Homo sapiens: one gene and its partners. The protein of the gene in region 3 purifies or fractionates together with the protein of the main gene of each other region. This does not show direct contact. Each region holds a gene or a part of one and is shown on either strand. Other genes may lie near its edges. The genes, in order: LMBR1, MSMO1 and CACNG6.

What was found.
Region 1: the proteins of CACNG6 (region 3) and LMBR1 purify together in Homo sapiens (affinity purification with mass spectrometry; one large-scale study listed by BioGRID and IntAct). This does not show direct contact.
Region 2: the proteins of CACNG6 (region 3) and MSMO1 purify together in Homo sapiens (affinity purification with mass spectrometry; one large-scale study listed by BioGRID and IntAct). This does not show direct contact.

Annotation. Positions count from the first base shown.
Region 1 is NC_000007.14:156,725,681-156,729,332, reverse strand, and holds part of LMBR1 (limb region 1 protein homolog), read left to right. Parts: intron 1-612; coding exon 613-689; intron 690-1,325; coding exon 1,326-1,403; intron 1,404-3,495; coding exon 3,496-3,569; intron 3,570-3,652. UniProt on the Homo sapiens protein: Putative membrane receptor.
Region 2 is NC_000004.12:165,330,573-165,334,224, reverse strand, and holds part of MSMO1 (methylsterol monooxygenase 1), read right to left. Parts: intron 886-3,652; 5' UTR 855-885; coding exon 600-854; intron 1-599. UniProt on the Homo sapiens protein: Catalyzes the three-step monooxygenation required for the demethylation of 4,4-dimethyl and 4alpha-methylsterols, which can be subsequently metabolized to cholesterol.
Region 3 is NC_000019.10:53,998,026-54,001,677, forward strand, and holds part of CACNG6 (voltage-dependent calcium channel gamma-6 subunit), read left to right. Parts: intron 1-213; coding exon 214-288; intron 289-1,608; coding exon 1,609-1,746; intron 1,747-3,652. UniProt on the Homo sapiens protein: Regulates the activity of L-type calcium channels that contain CACNA1C as pore-forming subunit.

The DNA of each region.
Region 1 (3,652 bases), on a different chromosome or scaffold from region 3:
ACATATGGTAGAAAATTATTGCAGAACCTGTGGCTATAGAAGGCCTACTGTATGTCTGTATTTTCAGAGTCAGCTGTATATCAACAATATATTTCCTTAATGATTGAGATGTCTTCACAGAGCTGAAATTTACGCATCACAGGATTGAGGTGTTTAATGTAGCAAACTGGTTTTAAAACTCTGATTTTTGTCTGGGTATCGTAGTTCGTGCCTGTAATCTCACCATGTTAGGAAGCTGAGCGGGGAGGATCGTTTGAGCCCAGGAGTTCAAGACCAGCCTGGGCAACATAGCAAGAACCTGTCTCCACAAAAAATAAATAAAAAAATTAGCCAGGCATGGTGGCATGTATCTGTAGTCCCAGCTACTTGGGTGGTTGAGATGGGAGGATCACTTGAGCCTAGGAGGTTGCAGTGAGCTGCGGCTATACCATTGTGCTCTAGCCTGGGTGACAGAGCAAGGCCCTATCTGTAGTTTTTTTAGTTTATGGAGGAAAATTAAAAGTAATTTATGTTTTTTAAAAAGAAATTATGTATAAAACAGATTATAGCATTATGGAAGGAAAATGTTAATTTGGAGAAAACTTTGTTTTATTTTGTTTTTCCTTTTAATAGAGAGGCGAAAAAAGGCTTCAGCATGGGAAAGAAATTTGGTGTATCCCGCTGTTATGGTTCTCCTTCTTATTGAGACAGTAAGAATTTATTTGCCTAGTTAAATAAAAGCAAATTATATTTTATTTACTTCAGCATTTGAGTATGGCAGCTCCCTCAGCTAAATGGTTTTTCATAAACTAGTTTTCTATCAACAGGATTAAAATCCATCTATGCCTTTATTTATGAAAATCCAATAAAGCAAAAATGGAAATTAATGGCAATTTAAAAAAAATTCTGAAGATTATCTGTTTCTTCATGAAAGCAGGAAATTCAGTCTTTGTTTTCATTGAAAATTAAGAAAACAAGGTGTTGCAGATAACCTGCTTTAAATTCTGTGATAAAATATGAAAATTACATTATGAAGTTAGTTCTGATAATATTTTACCACTTTTTTAAGTCTGTGGAGTTGTGTGTTTCCAATTGGTGAGATCACTTAGTAAAAGGATCTATATACTACCAGCTTTTGTCACAAGCTTTGAAATGACAATAACTTGCAGAATCTTTTAGAATTTCTTCAGTTCTTGTTTGTAGTCTGATTACTTTAGTTTTATATATAGCGTTTTGGTCTTGACTGCTTTCCCTCTATTCTGAAACGTGTATTTGGTTACCTAGATTTTAATATTTTGTATTGGTGAAAAATCTTGAGAGCTGACAGTTTGCTGTTTGTCTTGTAGTCCATCTCGGTCCTCTTGGTGGCTTGTAATATTCTTTGCCTATTGGTTGATGAAACAGCAATGCCAAAAGGAACAAGGGTAAAGTAAAATCCTTTAAAATGTCTTTCTTTTGCAAAAGTATTCTATGTCTATACCCTGAGTATTTCAAGTAAGCAAATGAAAACATTCACCTTTGTGCATGTATATACTTCAAGTTGTATGAATTTCTTTATGCAAAGAGCCTTTAAAATATAAACTGTGATTTTTGTTTCTAATTTTTTACTTTGGATTGACAGGGCCTTTTTTCAAGTGTTGGAATTTCCTTTTAGATTTCTTATCAGAGTTTATCTTGATTTTACTGAAATTCATTTAGCTATATGAAATTCCTTTAGCCATAGTCTTGATTCAGATCCCCCCACCTGAGTCTTTCCAGGACCTTGTGCCATCTGTTATTGCCATTGTTGTATTCACTTACAGCCTCTTCTCCATGAGTACAAGCCCACCATCATGCTCCAGGTGCCTCATCCTACAGACAGACAAGAAACTACCCTTTGCCATGTACAGTCTTATCTTTTTCTTTAGTTTTATACCCAAACCCACTGATAGAACAGGAAGTCGCTTACTATACTGACTTCCTAGTCACTTTTAACCCATTTTACTATACCAACAAAACAAGTCCCAAGCCCTATAGTATATTTTTGTACCCATCCCCCTTAGTGCTTAGTGGAGAATGACTTGTACGTCATAGGAGATCCCTGTATAATTGTGTAAAAAAATTAGATACTCTTAATCCTTCCTACATGGCTTCTCTTGAGATAGCATAATTCCAAAGTATTATCTCTGTTGATCAATAAGCTTCTGTAGGGGAGAAGAAGTAATACCTTTTTCTAACCTATTGGAAGGTTCATGGCTGAGATGCCTATAACAAAAGATTAATAAGAGAAAAGCTGACAAACTTATTTAAGATAAGTTTTACATATCACAGGGGTCTTCAGAAATAAAGAAGACCAAAGAAACAGAAAAAGCTGTGTACTTTTATGCTCTGGTTTGTTGAAGAGTGGACAGTAGTGGGAAGTATGATTGGAAGACAGGGGTGTGATCTAATGATTATAAACCGGGGGGATTTAGCAAGGCCTGTTCATATTCTTCTCGGTGTCCTCGTGTCTCCGGAGATAAACATGTGCTTCTCCTCTGGGTGGGTTGCGGGGGGCACCCTTGGATGGGGGTCTTATGGCCTGCTTCGCAGGAGAAGGAGACAGATCAGTGTGTGACCTTCCTAGGTTTTCTCAAATACCAGGTCCCAAATTTTGGAGTAGTGTGTCTTGAACCCCATCACTTTCTACCAGCATCATTTATTTCTTCTTCAAAAGATTGTCAAAAAGTTATTTTTTATTGGGCTGACTGTAGATTCTTAATTATCCCTGGTGTTTCTATTAGATGTAATCTGTGCTGACTAGTAAAACATTCAGATAGTTTCTTTTATTAGTAATCTTTGAAAATACTTCAGTAGGGAATGATTTTTTCAGATCTAATTATAAAAATAGTAACTTTTTTGTGTTTTTTTTTTAAGTTCTAGGTAAAGATAGTTTTTGAGATAGGGATAATTGTTTAGGAAAAAATTTATAGCATTACTTTTTTAAAAATCTATGTTAACAGTTACATCCTTTGTAACTCTGAATTCCCAAGGAAAATTTGGGCAAAGGAAACTTTCAGGTATGGGAACAGGATATGCACATTTACTCTCTTTCTACTCTTAGCTTAATTTTGACATACTTGAATTGTGTAATCTTTGTATATTGTGTAAGCATTCAGATAGCTATGTATCCTATTCTTATTTTTCTATTGTGTTTTTAAAAACTCTTTCCCAAAACTATTCAGGATTTTTTTCCTCAAGTGGCAAGTTGCCCCATTTTATAACAGTAAGCATAATCATGTCATCTTGACAAGTAACTTAAATTACATTTGAGATAAGTAATTTTTCTTGAGCTTATTAAAATTGTTAACATGGTGCCTGAATTTGTTGATGAAATCAGTCTAATGTCATGTCTTGTTGGCCTTTGAAAGTCTAGATGTTATTTCAAAGTAGTAAACATTCATAATTTCAACTGTCTTATTTTATGAAACAGCTGTTTTAGGGAAACCAATATAATGGTGTCATCAAATTCTGAAAAGTGTCTTTCTCCCACCCCAGGGGCCTGGAATAGGAAATGCCTCTCTTTCTACGTTTGGTTTTGTGGGAGCTGCGCTTGAAATCATTTTGATTTTGTATCCTTTCTTTAACTGAACGTTCAGCCTATCCACAAATTTTATACCAAGTTTTCTGGGGCAGTAGTTATTTACTAAGACAC
Region 2 (3,652 bases), on a different chromosome or scaffold from region 3:
GGCTAGTCTAAATTGAGATAGACTAAAATTAATGTAAAATACACACGGAATTGCAAAGACTTATTAAATATCTCATTAAGTATTTTTTAGAATTTGATTACTGATTGAAATAATAATTTACATTTATTTCTTATTTTTTTTGAGACAAGGTCTCACTCTGTCGCCTATGCTAGAGTATAGTGCTGCAATCTTTCTGCTTCAGCCTCATAAGTAGCTAGGACTTACATCACCATGCCTGGGTATTTTTGTATCTTTTTTGTAGAGACAGGGTCTTGCTATGTTTCCCAGGATGGTCTTGAACTCCTGGCCTCAAGCAATCCTCCTGCCTTGGCCTCCCAAAGTGCTGGAATTACAGGCATGGACCCTGCACCCAGCGATAGTTTACATTTATTGAGCTAAATGATACACATTATGAAATTAATTTCCTTATTTCTTTTTACCTTTTCTATGTATTCTACTAGAAAATTTAAAATTACATACGTGGCTTCATATTTCTATTGGATATCACTGCTTTAGCCTCACAAAACAAAGCCCTATGTACTTTTAAAATATTCAGCAACATTAATGATAATATTCTATTTCTAGTCCCTTATACTCACCTTTTGAATTTTGTATTTTTTCATATAAGGTATAAATTGAAATAAAAATCCAGGTAAACAGAATAAGAAATAAAGGGCTTCATGAACTATAAGGGATCCCCATGTTGCAATCTGGAACTTTGTATAATTATTCAACATATAGTTCCAAGCATTTTTAAATGGTTCTTGCAGAGGATTCTCAGGTAAAAGTGAATCTACATATTCCACAGCCAAGGATGCTGAACTAAAGATGCTGACACTTTCATTTGTTGCCATTTTTCAAATCTCTGCAGACAGCCTTATAATTCTGTAGAAATGAATACATATATAATAAGTTAAACAATGAGCTTTCAAAAAATAAAACAGTTAAAAAATGCATCCTCTGATCATTTTAAAAATGATAATTACTAAAGGAGTATAAATTTTTTACCAAAAAATTACTAAAGGAGTACAAATGGTTTTACACCATTTTAAAACATTTGCTGGATATCATCACCATTTCTATTTGTAGATATTCCTTTAAAAAACACATTATTTTCAAGAACAATAGCTAAAAGAACAATAGGGGAAAAATTTTTTCAAGCTATATTTAAAGAAATCGTCAGTGTGGTTCTCATGGAAAAGGTTCTAATTTAAATGAGCAATAGCTGGGTTTAAAAGTATCACTTAAAGCCAAAAGAACCTATAAAGAAAAAGCCTGCCAAATATGAGTATATAAAAATTAAGTACCTCCTACTGGGGAATAGAAAGACAAAGTCAAAGATTAAATGACAAACTGGGAAAAATATTTCCAACATTTTACAACAAAGGGCTACAAAGTGTGCTTTAGAAAAAAGACTAAAAAGACAACAGAAGAACGACAAATGCCATTCACAAGCAGTTCACAGAAAAATAAAGGCAAATGGTCACTAAACAAGGAAGAATCTTCACTTCATTAAATGAGGAAATGCACCCTAAAACAAAGAGACACTTTTAGCCTGAGTAGCAAATCTTTAAAAGCTTATTAATGTCCAGTACTGGTAAGAGGGTGAGAGAACAGGCATGACCACACACTGTGGGCAGGGGGGATACATCAGTGTATCATTGGAGGAAAAATTAGCAACACCTAATTCAAAATGAATACATCCTTTGATCCAGCAACTTTCTCATTCAAGGGTACAAAGACAGATCCGCTAAGATGGAAGGAAGCATTGCTTGTAGCAGCAAAAACAAAGAGGAAAAAATAAAAGCAAAACACAAATAAGCCATCAACAAGGTATGGGTTAAATAAATTAAGTCCTTCCATAGACAATTATACAGCCATTTAAAAGAACAGGGAAGATCTATACGCTCTACATAGAAAGATGTCTAAGATACAGTGTTAATCCAAGTAACAAGTTACAGAACAGTATGCATAGCAAGAGCCCCACTTAAGATTTTTTGAAAAGGATATGTATTTTATCTATGCACTTTTATGCATATGTATATACACAGACACACAGAAACAAAAAATGTACATATGGATAAAGGGAAAAATTCACACTGGTGACTTCTAGGAAAACAGAGTTGTGTGGCAGGGCAGGAGATAGTGTTAATGAAGACAGCGTGGCGGGGTAGGGGAGAGTGTTATGGAAGACAGCTCGGCGGGGTAGGAGACAGTGTGGTGGAGTAGGGGACAGTGTTATGGAAGACAGAGTGGCGACGGGGTAGGGGAGAGTGTTACGGAAGACAGAGCGCGGCGGGGTAGGAAATAGTGTTATGGAAGACAGAAAAAAAAATCTGACATATGTCTTTTGCACAATTTAAACTTTTTAAATGAGCATGTTCTACTTACCTAATAAATAAGCTCAATAGGTCACTAACCAAAAAATAAACTTCTCAAGGGTCACTTTCCTAAAAATGTTCACCACTGCTGCTTCTAATTTATGAATTTTTTGGACCATTTTAAAAATGAGTATTTTAAAGCCTCAGAAGCATTCTAAATAGTGCTTTAAAAGTCCCCTTCCCCAACACTTCTCAAACTGACCTTTTATCCCATTCTACAGAAGGAATATTGAGAACCTAGCCAACTCCTCCAGGCATCTGAATTCACTTCAGGCCGTCCTCCTTCTGTCCTACTCATCTCAAATGACTTACACCACAGTGACTATAGTGTTCCATCCTGTGTCATTACAGGCCTTAAAATTTCTTTGCTCATTCATTCTTTCCTCTAAGACTGACTAGTCTTCCTGTGTTCTTATCTTACCTCAAGAACTTGTCCATCACTTATCCTTTCCCATCTTTCATCCTTCTCCCTTCATGGAATCCATTCCTTCAGGTCTAAAAACACATTCACGTCTTTTCTTTTTTTTTTTCTTTTTTTTTGAGACAGGGTCTCACTCTGTCACCCAAGCTGGAGTGCAGTGGCACAATTATGGCTCATTGCAGCCTCGACCTCCCAGGCTCAAGCAATCCTCCCACCTCAGCCCCTCGTAGCTGGGACCACAGGCACATGCCACCACGCCTGGCTAATTTTTTTAATTTTTTGTGGAGACAGGGGTCACCCTATGTTGCCCAGACTGGTCTTAAACTCCTAGGCTCAAGTAATCCTCCCATCTCAGCCTCCCAAAGTGTGGGGATTATAGGTGTGAGCCACTGCGCCCAGCCTACATCTTCCTTTGTTGATAAACACCTTCCTAGCCTCCATTACCTCTTCCAAGCCACTGTCCCATTTATCTTTCTTTGAACCAACCAACTTCTTTCTCAAAGGAGAGCTCTACATAAAGATTGCTTAACTCAGCTGGGCATGGTGGCTCACGCCTGTAATCCCAGCACCTTGGGGAGGCTGATGCGGGCAGATCACCTAAGGTCAGGAGTTCAGGTGAATCGCTTGAAATGAGGAGGTGGAGGTTTCAGTAAGCTGTGACTGCACTCTAGCCTGGGCACCAACAGCAAAACTCCGTCTCAAAAAAAAAGAATAAAAAAGGTTGCTTAACTCACCCACACAACTCACTGAGCTACTTGCAATCTGGCTCCCCACCTGCACCAAAATGTCTTCAATCATCTTCTAAGTTGTAAAATAAGGCAACCATCCAATCTTAATTTTTCTCAAGGTG
Region 3 (3,652 bases):
TGGGGCTCAGAGCCCCGGGTAGGAGTCCCAGCTCCTAGATGGCAGTGTGGTCGCAGGTGGCTTTCACACCTCTGGGCATCATTTTTCTCCTCTGTGTATCAGGGATGCTGATGTCCAAGTTTTAGGCTCCCGTGGGCTGTTAACTGTCCAGCCCTGAGCTTACGCAAGGGACCTCACATCCTCATGTCTGTTTTCTCTCTCCTGCTCCCACAGAAGCAAACTGCACCTATTTTAAATTCTTCACCACGGGGGAGAATGCACGCATCTTTCAGAGAACCACAAAGAAAGGTGAGAACTTTTCACCCCCTGCTGGGTGACAGGTGGGGGAAATGCTGAGCGTGCTGGAGGAGTTCTAGAGAGAGTTATCCCCTCCTCTGCTTTACCCCAGGGCAGGTCTCGTGTCTATAATCTGTGGCTGTCCCCTGGGGAGTGCTGGCGGGAGAGTTAATGATGGGGACATGGTGCTCTAGAGAATCTAGAGAACTCTTTTTTTTTTTTTTTTTTGAGATGATGTCTTGCTCTGTCACCCAGGCTGGAGTGCAGTGGCACAATCTCGGCTCACTGCAACCTCCGCCTCCCAGGTTCAAGCAATTCACCTACCTCAGCCTCCTGAGTAGCTGAGACTATAGGCGCCCACCATCATGCCCAGCTAATTTTTATATTTTTAGTAGAGATGGGGTTTCACCATGTTGACCAGGCTGGTCTTGAACTCCTGACCTCAGGTGATCCCTCTCCTCAGCCTCCCAAAGTGCTGGGATGACAGGCGTGAGCCACTGCACCTAGCTGTGCCTAGAGCTCTTACCCCATCTCTGCCTATGCCACGTTCTGTGTCACCCCGGGCAAGTCGCAGCCCCTCTCTGTGGGTAGCACTTGGACATCTCACAAACCTGCAGGCATCAAGTACTGACCACAGTGCTGGGCACTCCATCTGTAAGATCTCCAGTCCTCGCAGTAGCCCTGCAGGGTGGGGGCTTTATCTTCCATCTTCCAGAAGTCCAGGAATGGTTACAATTATTCTTCCCAGGAAAATTTTTCACCATGTTGGCCAGCCTGGTCTTGAACTCTCCTGATCTCAAGTGATCCACCCACCTTGGCCTCCCAAAGTGCTGGGATTATAGGTGTGAGCCACCGCACCTGGTCCACAGGAGGAAATTTAGGCTGAGAAGGGTTCAGCCTAAATTCCTACTGGAATCTGGAAAATCCTACTAGAATCTTCCATGTAGGAAGTAGTTGGTGAGATTTCCAACCTGGATCATTCCACTGTAGCACACTGCCTTTGCCATCGTCTCCCACACACCCCACTGCCTCAGCTTCCTCAACTGTAAACCAGTGGTAACCAGATCCTAAGTAATAGTTGGTAATTCTCAACTCTTTCTAATCCTGGCCCTCTCCTCCCTTTGCTCAGTGACTTTAGAGAAATAACTGACCCTTTCTGAGTCTTAATTCCTTCAACAGTGTAAGTAAAATGTTGGGCTGGATGATACTCTACTTGAAAATTCTTCTCTCGTCCCGAATCTTACATCTTCCTGGTTCTGGGTTCCTATGGGTGAATCCTCCTCATTCCCTACATCCCATGTTCTCTGCTTCTTTCCTCTCTCCTGCTGGCAGAGGTGAATCTGGCAGCTGCGGTGATAGCAGTGCTGGGCCTGGCAGTCATGGCCTTGGGGTGCCTCTGTATCATCATGGTGCTCAGTAAAGGTGCAGAGTTCCTGCTCCGAGTTGGAGCCGTCTGCTTTGGCCTCTCAGGTGAGGGTTCAGAGCCTGGAGGCTGAGGACATTGCATGCTGGGAGGATCTCCAGGCACTGTTGCATGCTGGGAGATGGGGTCTCTATGCACTGTTGCACGCTCAGAGATGGAATCTCTATGCACTGTTGCATGCTGGGAGTAGGGTCTCCACACACTGTTGCATGCTGGGAGTAGGATCTCCACACACTGTTGCACGCTGGGAGGTGGGATCTCCAAGCCCTGTTGCATGCTTGGAGTTGAGGGGAAGCCCAAGGGCTATAGTAGGTTCAAAGATGGGAGAACCCCAACAACCGGGCTAAGGATTGGAGGGTGTCCAAACATTGTTTTAGATTTGGACCTGGGATTTCCAATCACTGTTGCATGCTAGGCATTAGAGAAAGCGCAAGGACTATAGAGGTCTCAAAAATTGGAGAGTTCTAAGCCCTGTTGTTGGCTGGGAATTGGAAGCTGTCCAAACGCTTTTCAAGGTTTGAACATGGAGTCCCCAAACACTGTTTCATGCTGAGATGTTTTAAGCACTATAGCGTGTTGAGAGGTCAGGGAAGCCCAGGGGCTATAGCAGGCTCAAAGGTGGAAGAGTTCCAAGCCCTATTGTTGGCTCAGAATTTGATGGTCTCTAAATGCTCTTTTAGATTTGAGACTTGAGGTCTGCAAGGACTGTTGCATTCTTGGAGCTGAAGGTCTAAATAAAATGCTGCATCTTGTGAAATGTAGCCCTCAGTAATAAACAACACTTCAGTTTATTGTACTTCCAGTTCAAATCCTTACAACAGCACTATTAGGCAGGGCTTACTATCCCCCATTTTATTTACTTATTTATTTTTGAGACAGAGTCTCCCTTTGTCTCCCAGGCTGGAGTGTAATGGCATGATCTCGGCTCACTGCAACCTCCGCCTGCTGGGTTCAAGTGATTCTTCTGCCTCAGTTTCCCAAGTAGCTGGGATTACAAGCAGGCACCACCACGCCTGGCTAATTTTTGTATTTTTCGGTAGAGACAGGGTTTCACCACATAAGCCAGGCTGGTCTCGAACTCCTGACGTCAAGTGATCTGCCTGTCTTGGCCTCCCAAAGTGCTGGGATTATAGGCATGAGCCACCACACACAGCTTCCCCCATTTTATAAATGAGGAAATTGAGGCTCAGAGAAGTCAGATGAATTACTCATGGGCACACAATCAATGATGGCATGATGGCAGAGGTGGGATTTTAAACTCGGTTTTCTTTCTTTCTTTTTTGAGATGGAGTCTCACTCTGTCGCCCAGGCTGGAGTGCAGTGGCACGATTTCAGCTCACTACAACCTCTGCCTCTAGGTTCCAGCCCAAGCTGTGCCCTGAATCACTGTGTGGCCTTGGGAAGGTTCCTTTTATTTTCTGGGCCTTGGTTTTCTTCTTGGATCAAATGTTTTCTTTTCTTTTCTTTCTTTTTTTTTTTTTGAGACAGAGTTTCGCTCTTGTTGCCCACGCTGGAGTGCAGTGGCACAATCTCAGCTCACTGCAACCTCCGCCTCTCAGGTTCAAGCAATTCTCCTGACTCAGCCTCCCAAGTAGCTAGGATTACAGGTGTGTGCCACCACGCCTGGCTAATTTTTGTATTTTTAGTAGAGACAGGGTTTCATCATGTTGACCAGGCTGGTCTCCAACTCCTGACCTCAAGTGATCCACCCACCTTGGCCTCCCAAAGTGCTGGGATTACAGGCGTGAGCCACCGCGCCCGGCCAAGACTTTCATAAAACACTTTTATATCAACACCTTCCTGTGCACCCCCAGGGGTAATGCAGGTGTGAGTTTAATAATAACGCCAGCACCAAATTCCTACCAAGCTACAAATTCCATGAAAACAGACATCATCTTTATCTTTTTCATCGTTCTGTCCTCAGGGATTTAGAGAGGGCCTCTCTGGGGAGGT